Linked DNA regions of Homo sapiens: region 1 is linked to region 2. Evidence: fine-mapped expression QTL. Tissue or cell type: tibial artery. Region 2 holds a variant in brackets; the other region holds the start of a gene. All regions are shown on one strand. Distances are between the middles of the regions.

Region 1 (5,035 bases), 50 kb after region 2:
CCAGCTTGGCCTTCTCCGTGCCGTTGGCGTGGAAGGGCGGGAAGTCCGTCACGTTGGGGCCACATAGCTTGTCCAGGTTGTTGGGGAACGGCTCCCCCTGGGCTGTGTACTGAGGGGCAGAAGGGAGGTGACGTGGGAGTCAGGGGTCAGTGTCCCAGCCCTGCCGCCAACCCTTTGGGCAAGCTCTTGCGTCTGTTTCCCCATCTAGCGCATGAGGACCCAACTCCTTGCCCTGTAAGCATCTGGAATTGTCATGAGAGCCAAAACTAATTGTAATGTGAGTGCCCTTGCTAAAGATCAAAGACTGAGCCATGCACGCAGTCATCATTATCATCATCATCATCATCACCACCCTAAGGGGACAGAAGGGAAAACTCGGTGTCTAGCCCTAGCTGGGGCACCACACACAAGTACTTCCATCCCTGCACTCACAATGTTCCGGGACGCCCCTCCATGCCCAGCACCCACAGCCCACTGCCTCTCAACCGCATCTCCCTGGTGCCTCACGCCCATTTCCCCTCCATCCCTCGCTCCCTGCAGCAGGACAATCACAAGATAAGAAGTGCCAGGTCCCCACCTTTGCACTCAGTTCTCCCCTTGCTAACTGGGCACCCTGGGGAAGCTTCCCTGGGGAAGCTTGGGCAGGAAGTGGCGGGAGTCTGGGGGTGGTTTAATCAAGCCCTCTCCCCATTCTCTCCTTCCAGCCCCAAAAGGTCCCCTCAACCCAGATCAGGACAGCCCCTAATGATATTTACAAGCCCCCTCCCTGCCATCTCCTGTCAGTATCCCAGGGGTAACTTACATAGAGAATAAAGAGGGCATTGGCACTGCCATTGAGCTGTGCCAGTTGGCTCCTGATCTGGTTCATGAGGTTGTTGTGACATGGGTGGCGTATGGCACAGGTGGCGTTGACAGGGGTGATGGGGAGGGGGCTCCCCGCCCCATGTTTCCAGTGCAGAACCAACAGCAGGGGCACAACTCCTGGGGACAGTCAGGAAGAAGCCATGAGTAGAAAGGCAGGAAAGGGTGGCCTGGGGTCATGGCACACCGGATGGGGGTCCAACAATGGCCGCATGGGAGAGGACTCCTGGTTCCCCCTCACCACCTGCAGCTGTCTTCCTGGGGCCTAGTCTTCACTCTGTCACTGCGTGTGTTTCTCTGTCTCCCTTTCTCTACCTTAGTTCTCCCTGCTCTCTTCTGGGATGACGTAAAGATGAGGGCAAGACACAAGCCATTTCCACCCAAAGGGTGCAGGGTCCAGGAGAGACTCCCAGCCATCCCACCCTTTCCCTCAGGAAGGCAAAGGTCCTAAGGCCCCCTGGCCCTCTGGCTGGAAGGCACCAGGCCCCAGGCCCAGCAGGCACCAGGAGAAAGGAGACCCCTCTCTTCCCACCTCCCGTGGTGGCCCAGGTTCCTCAGCAGCGCTTCCCACTCACTGGCCCATTGCAGCCCAAATCTCCGAAGCCAGGCACCCATGGGGGCCACGGGGCATGGGGGAGTGGGGAGGAGTCCTCGGTTGACCCTCATCTCCCTCCCAAACCTGCCACTTGATTCTGGCTCCCTGGGCCAATTGCCCCCAATTCTGCCCCCGCCCCCATCATCCTCTATCTCTTCCTTCCCTAGTGTCCCCTATCTCACTCAAGCTCACCCCATTTCTGCCTGGCTGTCCCCACTCTCCATCCCCAAATCATCATTCAAAACTCTCTGTTCCCCCAGCTCCGGACAGCCCCTGACTCCATGCCTTCTCCCGACTCATCCGCTGTCCCTTGTCCCAGGGGTTCCCCTCCCTCCTAACACACACACACCGGCTCAGGGAGGGAGAGGAAATGGTGCACCAGGAGAGAGAAAAGGCAAAAGGTCATAGGCAGTCGGGTGGGCGGGGAGGAAGGAAAGTGAAAGGTGACAGGAGAGCTGGGAGCTGTCCCGACATGTCCTGGTTTGCCCCTCCCCCAGGGGGGCCTGTTCTCCCGACTCCCCCCAGGCCCCCTTAGACGCTTTTCCAGGGCTCTGCAGAAGGGCACCTGAAGATGGTGGGGGCCGGGGTCAGCGGGCGAGTGAGGCTGGAGACCTCCCCCGGATCCCCCATGCTGGAACAGCGGGGACAGGGGCCTCCTCAAGTTCACTTCTCCTGGGTCCCCTGTTCGTCCCAGCATCCCAAGGCAGTGCTGAGGCCCCGGGGTGGCTGCGGGAGGGGGGCCACACCCCTATATCTCACCTAGCGCAGACCACACGCTTCCAGACACCAGCAGATGGAGGCGGCACCTGCTCCCGTCCCAGGCCGGAGTTTGCAAGCTGCTCGCCGCCCGCGCCCCTCCCTGGGAGCAGCCCGGGACCGCGGTTGGAAAGGAGAAAGCGGAAAGAAAGAAAGAAAAGAAAAAGAGAGAGGGAGAGTGAATCTGGGAGAAAGCGCAGAGGGAAGAGCAGCCAGCGAGTGTCCGGAGCGAGGAGGAGGAGGAGGAGAAGGAGAGGGGGAAGAAGAGGAGGAGGAGGAAGGCTCGGCGCCCCCTCCCTCGCCGCCAACCTGCCGCGGGGCGTGCGGTGCTTGGGACCATGTGCCCGCGCTCGCTCCGGGCCGCCACCCAGCGCCTCCGGTGGCTGCGCGGGCGCCCCAAGTGTTCGTGTGTCTGCGGCGGGTGGGCGTCCGGCTCGCGCTGCCAAGCGCCCCAAGTTGCCGCCGCGCCCCGCAGCGGGGACGCGAAGCCGGCGCGGGGCGGGTGTATTTACCTGCCGCCAAGACCTTCATTATGGGCTGCACTTCAGAGGGCCTTGGAGGAAACCTCAGATGCCGGCAGTTTTCAGAGGTTCATGCTCAAATGGGGAATTTGCCTGATTTATATACTGGAGCCTGTGTTGTAAGACAGAAACAGCTATATTTAGCCGGGATCCCCAGTCCAGGAAGTTGTTTGAGGTGCATCATAGGAAATTATGAATGGAAGAAAGTGAGAGTGAAGGGGGGGGACGAGTGAGGGGGGAGGGTGGGGAGAACAGACTTTTTCCCTCTTCTAAGAATTTGATTGATAAAATTATAATGAAGCCTTCGACAAAACGCCCTGTGGTTTTCCTGCCTGGCTTGTCCCGGGAGTTGTCTGAAGATGGGCATCGCCAGGAGGGGGCCCCTGGCCGAGTCAGCAGGGGTCCCAGCAGTGGGCGCCCCAGACGGCCCTGACTCACCTGGGTTTGGGGAGGTAGCGAGTCTGGACTAGCAGATGGAGACTGGCCCCTGTGCCCCCTGGTTGGGGGGCTTTAGGGGGGCAGTGGGAGGAGGAGGGCTAGGGCTTGGCTGAGAAGGAGGCTCCAGGAGGAGGGGCCGGGGCCGGCGTGGACTTTAGACGGTCATAAAGTGGAACTGAACATGGGCGCTGGAAGCCACCCCAGAGGTAGCCTCCTCCAATCTGCACATTGCCACTGGGCCCCAAGGGGCTCCGAGGGGAACACGTTGCCCAGGGCCCCAGAGGGTCAGGCCTCCAGACACCACCAGTGCACTCGCCCTGCTGACCACTGTACCTGTGAGGCTGGGGAAGGGGCTAGGAAGACATGGGGGTAGGGGTGACTGACTCAGTTCTGTCGGGACACTCTGGGAAGGTGCTTCTGGGAAGGCGGTCCAGCATTTCCATTCTGAAGCAGGACTGAGAGAGGCTTGGCGAAATCGTACCCCAGTTTCCTCCTCCGGGTGCTGATTGATGGTTGGGGAAACTGAGAAGTGGCTGGTCCCTTCCAGACCTGCCTTGGAAGCCCCTTTGAGCCCAGCCTCAGAGAATGATGGAGGTCCCCAAAAAGTGCTTCTAGAGGCTCTAAGGCAGTGTCACATGTTCTGGCGTCTTCTGAGGCCAGGCGATTTGTGAATGAGGAAGGGCAGAAAGGAGCAGTGGGGAGCCGGGCAAAATGAGCACAGGGACACCTCCAAGAAATGCAACAGAAAAGTGAAAATAAATACACCCTATGAGATGCGGGAATGCCGGCCAGACAGCATGGCCACGCGTCTGGGGCCATGCCGTCCCTAAAGCTGCCAGGGGACCCCCAGTACCAGGAGATGATTTAGTCCCCTGTGGCCCCTTCCCAGCCCTTCCGCCTGACCCTGACCTGAGATCAAGGTGTGTGAGTTGGTTTTCCAAGGCCAGGGAGCTCTTGCAGCCTCGCCCGGGCCCCCACCGCCCCCTCGCCCATCCTCCATGCCCCCAGTTCCTGCCTCTTGCCACATCCCAGACCTGCCCAGCCACGGGTTCCTCCTTCATCGTGCCAGGACGAGCCCTGGTGCCTGCTGCCGTTCCCCACCACACACACACCCTGCTTTATCTACGCTCTTGCCCCCCATTCTCTCCCAGCAGGGCCTCGGATGTGAGGTGATAAAACTGCCCATCCCAGCTGGCACTTCCCGAACTGGCTCTCCTTCCTCCTTCCTGCCTCTCACCCCACACCTTGTCTCTTCTTTGAGGGACCATGGAGGGCCCCACTTGGCACTTACTGCTCCTATACACTTGCTCTGGGGTCAGCGTACACTACTAGGAGACTCACCTGCCCTGGCCTGGCTCAGGTAACCCCACATCCCAGGACACCCCAGCTCAACCCTTCTTCTTACACCTCCCCCAGCATCTCCTGCACAAGGACCTGACCACTCAGAGCACGTGAGCTCTGGACCAGTCCCCAGTCCCATCCCACATCACCCAGACCCCTGCCACCTGACTCAGCCTGGCTCTCCTGACATGGACCCCAAATCCATGTGACCAGGGGCTCACTGTGGCCTCCACCCATCAAACCCCCGTCGCCCGGCCTGAGTCTCTCATTAGGCTCAAGAGTTCTGCAGCTGCCCCTACATCTACCATTCTGCCCAGTCTCCCCTGCATCCTTCCAAGCGGACCCCCAGGCCCTTGCATGCCTTCTGGCAAGCCAGACCCCACATCAGCCCTATAATCCACCCCCAATCGCTGTTTAATCTCAGCCCCACCCCACAGGAAACAGGAAGTGAGGACAGGGTCTAGAAGACACTGACACTAAGGCCCCTTAACCCCAGCCCTGACTGGCCCCTCCAGTGCCTCAG
Region 2 (5,254 bases):
TCTGAGGAAGTGGTGTTTGAGCTGAGGCCATATGAAGAGGAAGGACAGTCAGAGAGACAAAACACTCCAAGCAGGACAGTGAGTGCATAGGCCCTGAGTCTGAAAGGAACTTGATGTGTTTTTGGAACTGAAAGACCAATGAGGCTGGTCCCCACTGTGGCTGCCAATGTCCATTCTCCTGTCCTTCCATAGCGATAGGGCTTCTGACACAGGGCTACCTGGCTGTAGTATATTTCCCAGCTTCCCTTGCAGTTGAACATGGCCATGGGACTGAGTTTTCATGAGTGGAATGCTAACAAAAGATCTTCTGTGACAGCTGGGGCCCTTAAGAGGTGGGTGAACCCCCCCTACCCTTCACACTTTCCTTTTCTTGCTGGATGCATCTGAGGCTTGGTAGTAACCCAGCTTATACCAGAACACCACATGGAATAGCAGATCCCCAGTCAGAAGGGGCCTTGGTCACTGAATGACTGCAGAGAATACAGCCCCTTGCCTGCTTGGATCACTCATCTCACTCATCATCACTCAACTCTCAAGATGGTTACTTGAGAGAAAAAAGATTCTATATTCTTTAAGCCACTGAAGTATTGTCATGTCTCTTACCTAACCTAACTATTACAGAAACAAAGGAGATACTAGCGCCACCAACCAGTCCACATTTAGAGCGTTGCATTTAGTCCAAAGGTTCACGTTTTTAAAAGAGACATTGACCATCTGAAGCATGTCTAGGGAAAGGTAACAATAACAACATTTAGGAGTCTGAAAACCAAGTCAATGAAAAATCTGTTAAAGACATTACAGTTGTTTAGTCTGGAAAAGAGATTTCTCCAGGGTGACATGATAACTGTCTTCAAAAATTGAAGAAGAGGAATGAAACTGAATTGGGGTAGCTCAGTGGGACCTATGGCTGGTTGGGATTTGTGATGAAGCAGATTCTCATTCAATATAGGGAAGAAGTATCTAACAATGAGGGGTGATTAGAAAAAGGCCAGATTACTTTGAGTATCAGAGGCTTCTCCCTATCACTGCACCCAGAGAATGGCCACCCACTTATGAGATGTTGCAGGGGTGATCCAATATCATTGTGGCAATGCTAGTGAATTCTAGGATTTCATGTAGAAGAGGTGATATATAATGCAGGTGAAGCCAGGTCACAACGGGGAACTGACTGTCAGTTTGGAGTGTATCCTGGAGGCAAGTAGTATCTTGAAGGTTTCTGAGCAGAGTAGCAACATGATCAAAGCAATCTGCTAGGAACATTGCTTTGGCCAACACAGGGTGGTAAAAGTCCTGATTTTTATAGCCCGTGTTGGTCATTGGGTGCTTATATTCCCTGAACCAGTAGCAATTTAAAGAAAACCAAGAGTGGGCCGGGCACAGTGGCTCACGCCTGTAATCCCAGCACTTTGGGAGGCCGAGGCGGGTGGATTATGAGGTCAGGAGATCGAGACCATCCTGGCTAACACAGCGAAACCCCATCACTACTAAAAATACAAAAAAATTAGCCGGGCATGGTGGCACGTGCCTGTAGTCCCAGCTACTCAGGAGGCTGAGGCAAGAGAATTGCTTGAACCCGGAAGGCAAAGGTTGCAGTGAGCTGAGATTGCGCCATTGCACTCCAGCCTGGGTGACAGAGCGAGACTCCGTCTCAAAAAAAAAAAAAAAAAAGGAAAACCAAGAGTAAACAACATTGATTTTCTTTACTTTATTTTTGAGATAATCCAAAAAAATAGTTATGAGCTAGCATTTTTTAACAATTTATCTTCCAAGATGAATGATCCTTTCATTTCAAGGAGCTCAAAGTACTTGACATCCCAGTCTCATTCAGGCTTGTCTCATATCTGAACCGCTATGTCAGGGGCAAGACTGTCAAACCTCCTCTCTCAGATAAGAAGGATTCACAAAGAGGGGAAGTGAGTTGTTCAAGGTCACAGTGAGTCAATGGCAGGGCAGGCTCTTTGACTGAGGTCTCCCAACCCTCAGGCCTGCACACTGCCTTGTGCCCATGCAAAGGATACCTCAACTAGGAATGTCCCCCACATACCAGAAAAACCAACCTGAATGAACATCCTTTCTGAAGATAGAAATTACCTGAGATATTTAAGGTTCAACCAATCTCATTTTGTAGATGAGGAAACTGAGGCTTAGTGAACTCAGGCCTGGGATTCCTTGTACTACATCTTACCATCCTATCTACCCATAAAATGGTAGGCCCAGAAACAACCTACATGATTACCTGGAACCAACTAGGCTATCATCATCAGCTCCACTGTCTGGAAATATAAAGGCTCACATTGGCTTTGGCCACCAAAGAGAGGAAACATTCTGCAATCCTTAAAAACTCATGGCCGAAGGGGGTGGGGAGAACTGTTTGAGCCTTGTACTTACAAAGTCAAAAGGGAAAACATGTGTTTCACATTTGTCTTGGGATGGGAAAGAAAAACTTTTCCTTTCACTTAATCTTGGTTTAAACAAACAGAGAGACTGCCCTTTCTGTAAACTCACCGAATGTCAAATATTGTTCACTCGCATGGCATTGGCTTACTAAGCCACTACAGAGCCACTTCCCTCACGTAATCCCCTCAATCCAAAGGCACTTCAACTTGAAGAGGATCAACTGAAATAATACACATTTCCTCTGATGATTGGACAAGAGGCAGCCGATGGAATCAGGTTTCCAAACCTATAACCCCTGGTTTCAGCCGGAGACTTGAGGCAATACAGCTTCAGTCATGACTCAGGATTTTGCGAGTGAAAGCAAGCACGTCAAGTGATGTAAGAAAATTCCCCCATTCCTCCAACCCACTGGCTTCCTCCTCCCTGGAGAATTCAGTCAGACAGCATTGTGTTGGGGGTGGGGGAGAAACAGAGGTATCCTGTCACTGGGTGCTGAGCTGCCGGCACGCCTCCTATCACCATTGCCATGGCCAGCGTCATCACCATCGCGGTGGCCAG[C/G]GTCAGCGTTTGACAAAGGAAGTACTCAGTTACAATTACCTTCCTGTTGGCCAGCAGCTCAGATAATTGCTTTGCAATGTGTGTGAGAACCTCATAAATTAAACCAAGAAACAGAGGGGCCAGGTCTGGGCTGAAGGGAAGTGTCAAGTGGAGGAGGCAGTGATGCAAGGCTACCTTTGAAGTCACTTTGTTTGTGAAAAGTCTGCTGTGCTCTCTTAAGGAAACTCCACTGGAATGAGGTTTCTGTGCATGTGGGGTTTAGGGCTATTGTTTTTGGCTCTGACTTTCACCTCAAGCCCTAGCTAGGACATGTATAAATCCCATAACAACAGCCTGACATGAAATTGCTCACCCTCTCATTGCATCAGGGGACTTTTACTCAGGCGGATTTTGAATGCCTCATTGTTTAATAGGACAGGAAGTTTACTCTCAATGTAAATGAGGAATCCTTTTTCTCCCCGCCTTACCTCCTTGGAAGATTCTTACAGAGGCCTGACTTGTTGGCCCTAGTCTAGCTTCTGGTCTAGCTCCTTCCATAAAAGCAGCTGCAGCCCAGCAGCAGCCTCCCAGTTTCTTTATTAGGGTAAGGCTTTTCTTAGGACCAAAGTTTTTGGGCAGGCTTTTCCCTAGAGGGAGTGCTGGGTGATGGGTTAAGTAAGGGCCACCCAGGGACAGGGTGGGGTTGGATGTGAAAAGGGTTGGATTTTCTCTTTTCAGTTTCTTCATTCTGAACTGGACCTAGGTTTTTTTTTTAATCACAGAGAGGGAAGCCCCATCTCTAAATCTTATGATGCTTTTCTTCCTTGGGATATATCACAAGGAAAAAGTGGGTGACTAGCCCACATTTGTGGCATAAGGATAGGACTCTGAAGTCCAAATGTATCAGATTAACCAGCATGAGCAAGAGGATGCCTAATTCAGAACCATGACCCTACCCTCTGTTAGAGCAAATCTCTGAGGATAGAAACTTCTAGAAAAATCCTTGTGGGCTCCCCCACATCTCACACCACACTCTGTAGGCAAACCCTTTAAAAAAGGCACAAGTATAACCCTCTCAATCTTCTTCTGATGCCCTCAGCAACAAGATTGGCTGAGAGATCTTCAAAGGGAGAATAATCTCAGATACAATTACTTTAGTCAAAGGAAACCAGTTATGGACAACAACTAGGGAAATGACAGAGACACCAACTCAGTAAGATGAGGAAGCCCTAGTTTATTTGGTTTGTATATCCAGAATCTTTTTTCCTACACATCTGAAAAGATACCAATAATGAGTTAAAAAAAAAAAATCAAGTCAACCACTGCACATGTAGACCTAGAGATTAGTCTAAGGTTGAATTCCCATCACCATTGCCTTCCACACACAGCTTCATCAACAATGATGAAGAGTCAAGGATGGGCTGGGCAGGTGGCTCAGGTCTGTAATCCCATAACTTTGGGAGGCCAAGGTGGGTGGATCACTTGAGGTCAGGAGTTCAAGACCAGCCTAGGCAACATGGTAAAATCTGTCTCTACTAAAAATATATTAAAAAAAAAATTTAGCTGGGCATGTGGTGCACACTGGTAATCCCAGCTACTCCAGAAGCTGAGGCAGGAGAATCACTTGAACCCGGGAGGCGAAGGTTGCAGTGAGCCGAGATCGAGCCACTGCACCCCAGCCCGGGCAACACTTGCTCTGTCTCAAAAAAATAGGAAGAGTCAAGGATGATCCCTGACAGTAAATATGCTAAAGATTTATTTGTTTAAAATTGCAACATTAACCAGAGTTTTACACACTTGTATATGTGTATACGCATGTAAGTGTGTGATTGTGATTTTATTTGCACCAGGTCAGGTATAACTAAGCAAGAAGTAGCAGCCTTGCTTGTGGCCGGAGCTCTGTTCTCAGAGCTGCTTTCACATTACAGTCACCTGTAGAGATTCATCCACAACACACAGATACCTGAATGCCTGAGTGTCTCCCCCAGAGGTTCGGATTTAACTGGGCTGGCCTGGGATCTGAGCACAGATCTTTTTTTTTTTTAAAGCTCTCCAGCTGATTATAATGTGTGTCCAGGTCACCATCCACTGAACTAGGCCAGCCCCTAATGCAGTCTTCTCCCTCCACTGCTCTGTAAAATTGAGCCACATTTGCCAGCTCCTTGCACAATATCCTCTCACTTGGGCACTGGTGATTCTCTCATCTCCCTGGTCCTCATCCTCGCTTCACCCCACACTTCAGCATCTGGGATCTGGCTTCCCTGTGACTATACCATGGCAAAAAAGTTCTTCCTAAAATGGCCTCAGGTATAATTCACAT

Which allele goes with the higher level. Positions count from the first base shown, and alleles are read on the strand shown. Sizes are in standard deviations (SD) of each study's normalised expression.
In carriers of allele G in region 2, the expression in tibial artery of the gene that starts at base 2,807 in region 1 tends to be lower than with C alone (small effect, 0.18 SD a copy in GTEx).

Evidence for each region. PIP is the estimated chance that this variant, and not a neighbour inherited with it, causes the effect.
Region 1: LIF starts here. The variant in region 2 is fine-mapped to the expression of LIF in tibial artery (GTEx, PIP 0.97). The same link has a PIP of 0.9 or more in monocytes.

What each region holds. Positions count from the first base shown.
Region 1 is chr22:30,243,953-30,248,987 of GRCh38, forward strand. It overlaps LIF (LIF interleukin 6 family cytokine), which reads right to left and starts at 2,807. Exons shown (of 3, transcript NM_002309.5): 1 at 2,725-2,807; 2 at 803-981; 3 at 1-109. The coding sequence starts at 2,743. It overlaps LIF-AS2 (LIF antisense RNA 2), which reads left to right and starts at 2,258. Exons shown (of 1, transcript NR_148946.1): 1 at 2,258-3,041. RefSeq lists an enhancer at 757-1,257.
Region 2 is chr22:30,193,543-30,198,796 of GRCh38, forward strand. The region is part of intron 1 of LOC105372988 (a long non-coding RNA gene); the gene reads right to left. It also overlaps a transcript of HORMAD2 not described here. Among named protein-coding and RNA genes, the nearest start is that of LIF-AS1, 43 kb to the right of the region's middle. RefSeq lists an enhancer at 2,824-2,943. The variant C/G (reference allele first, on the strand shown) is at 2,956.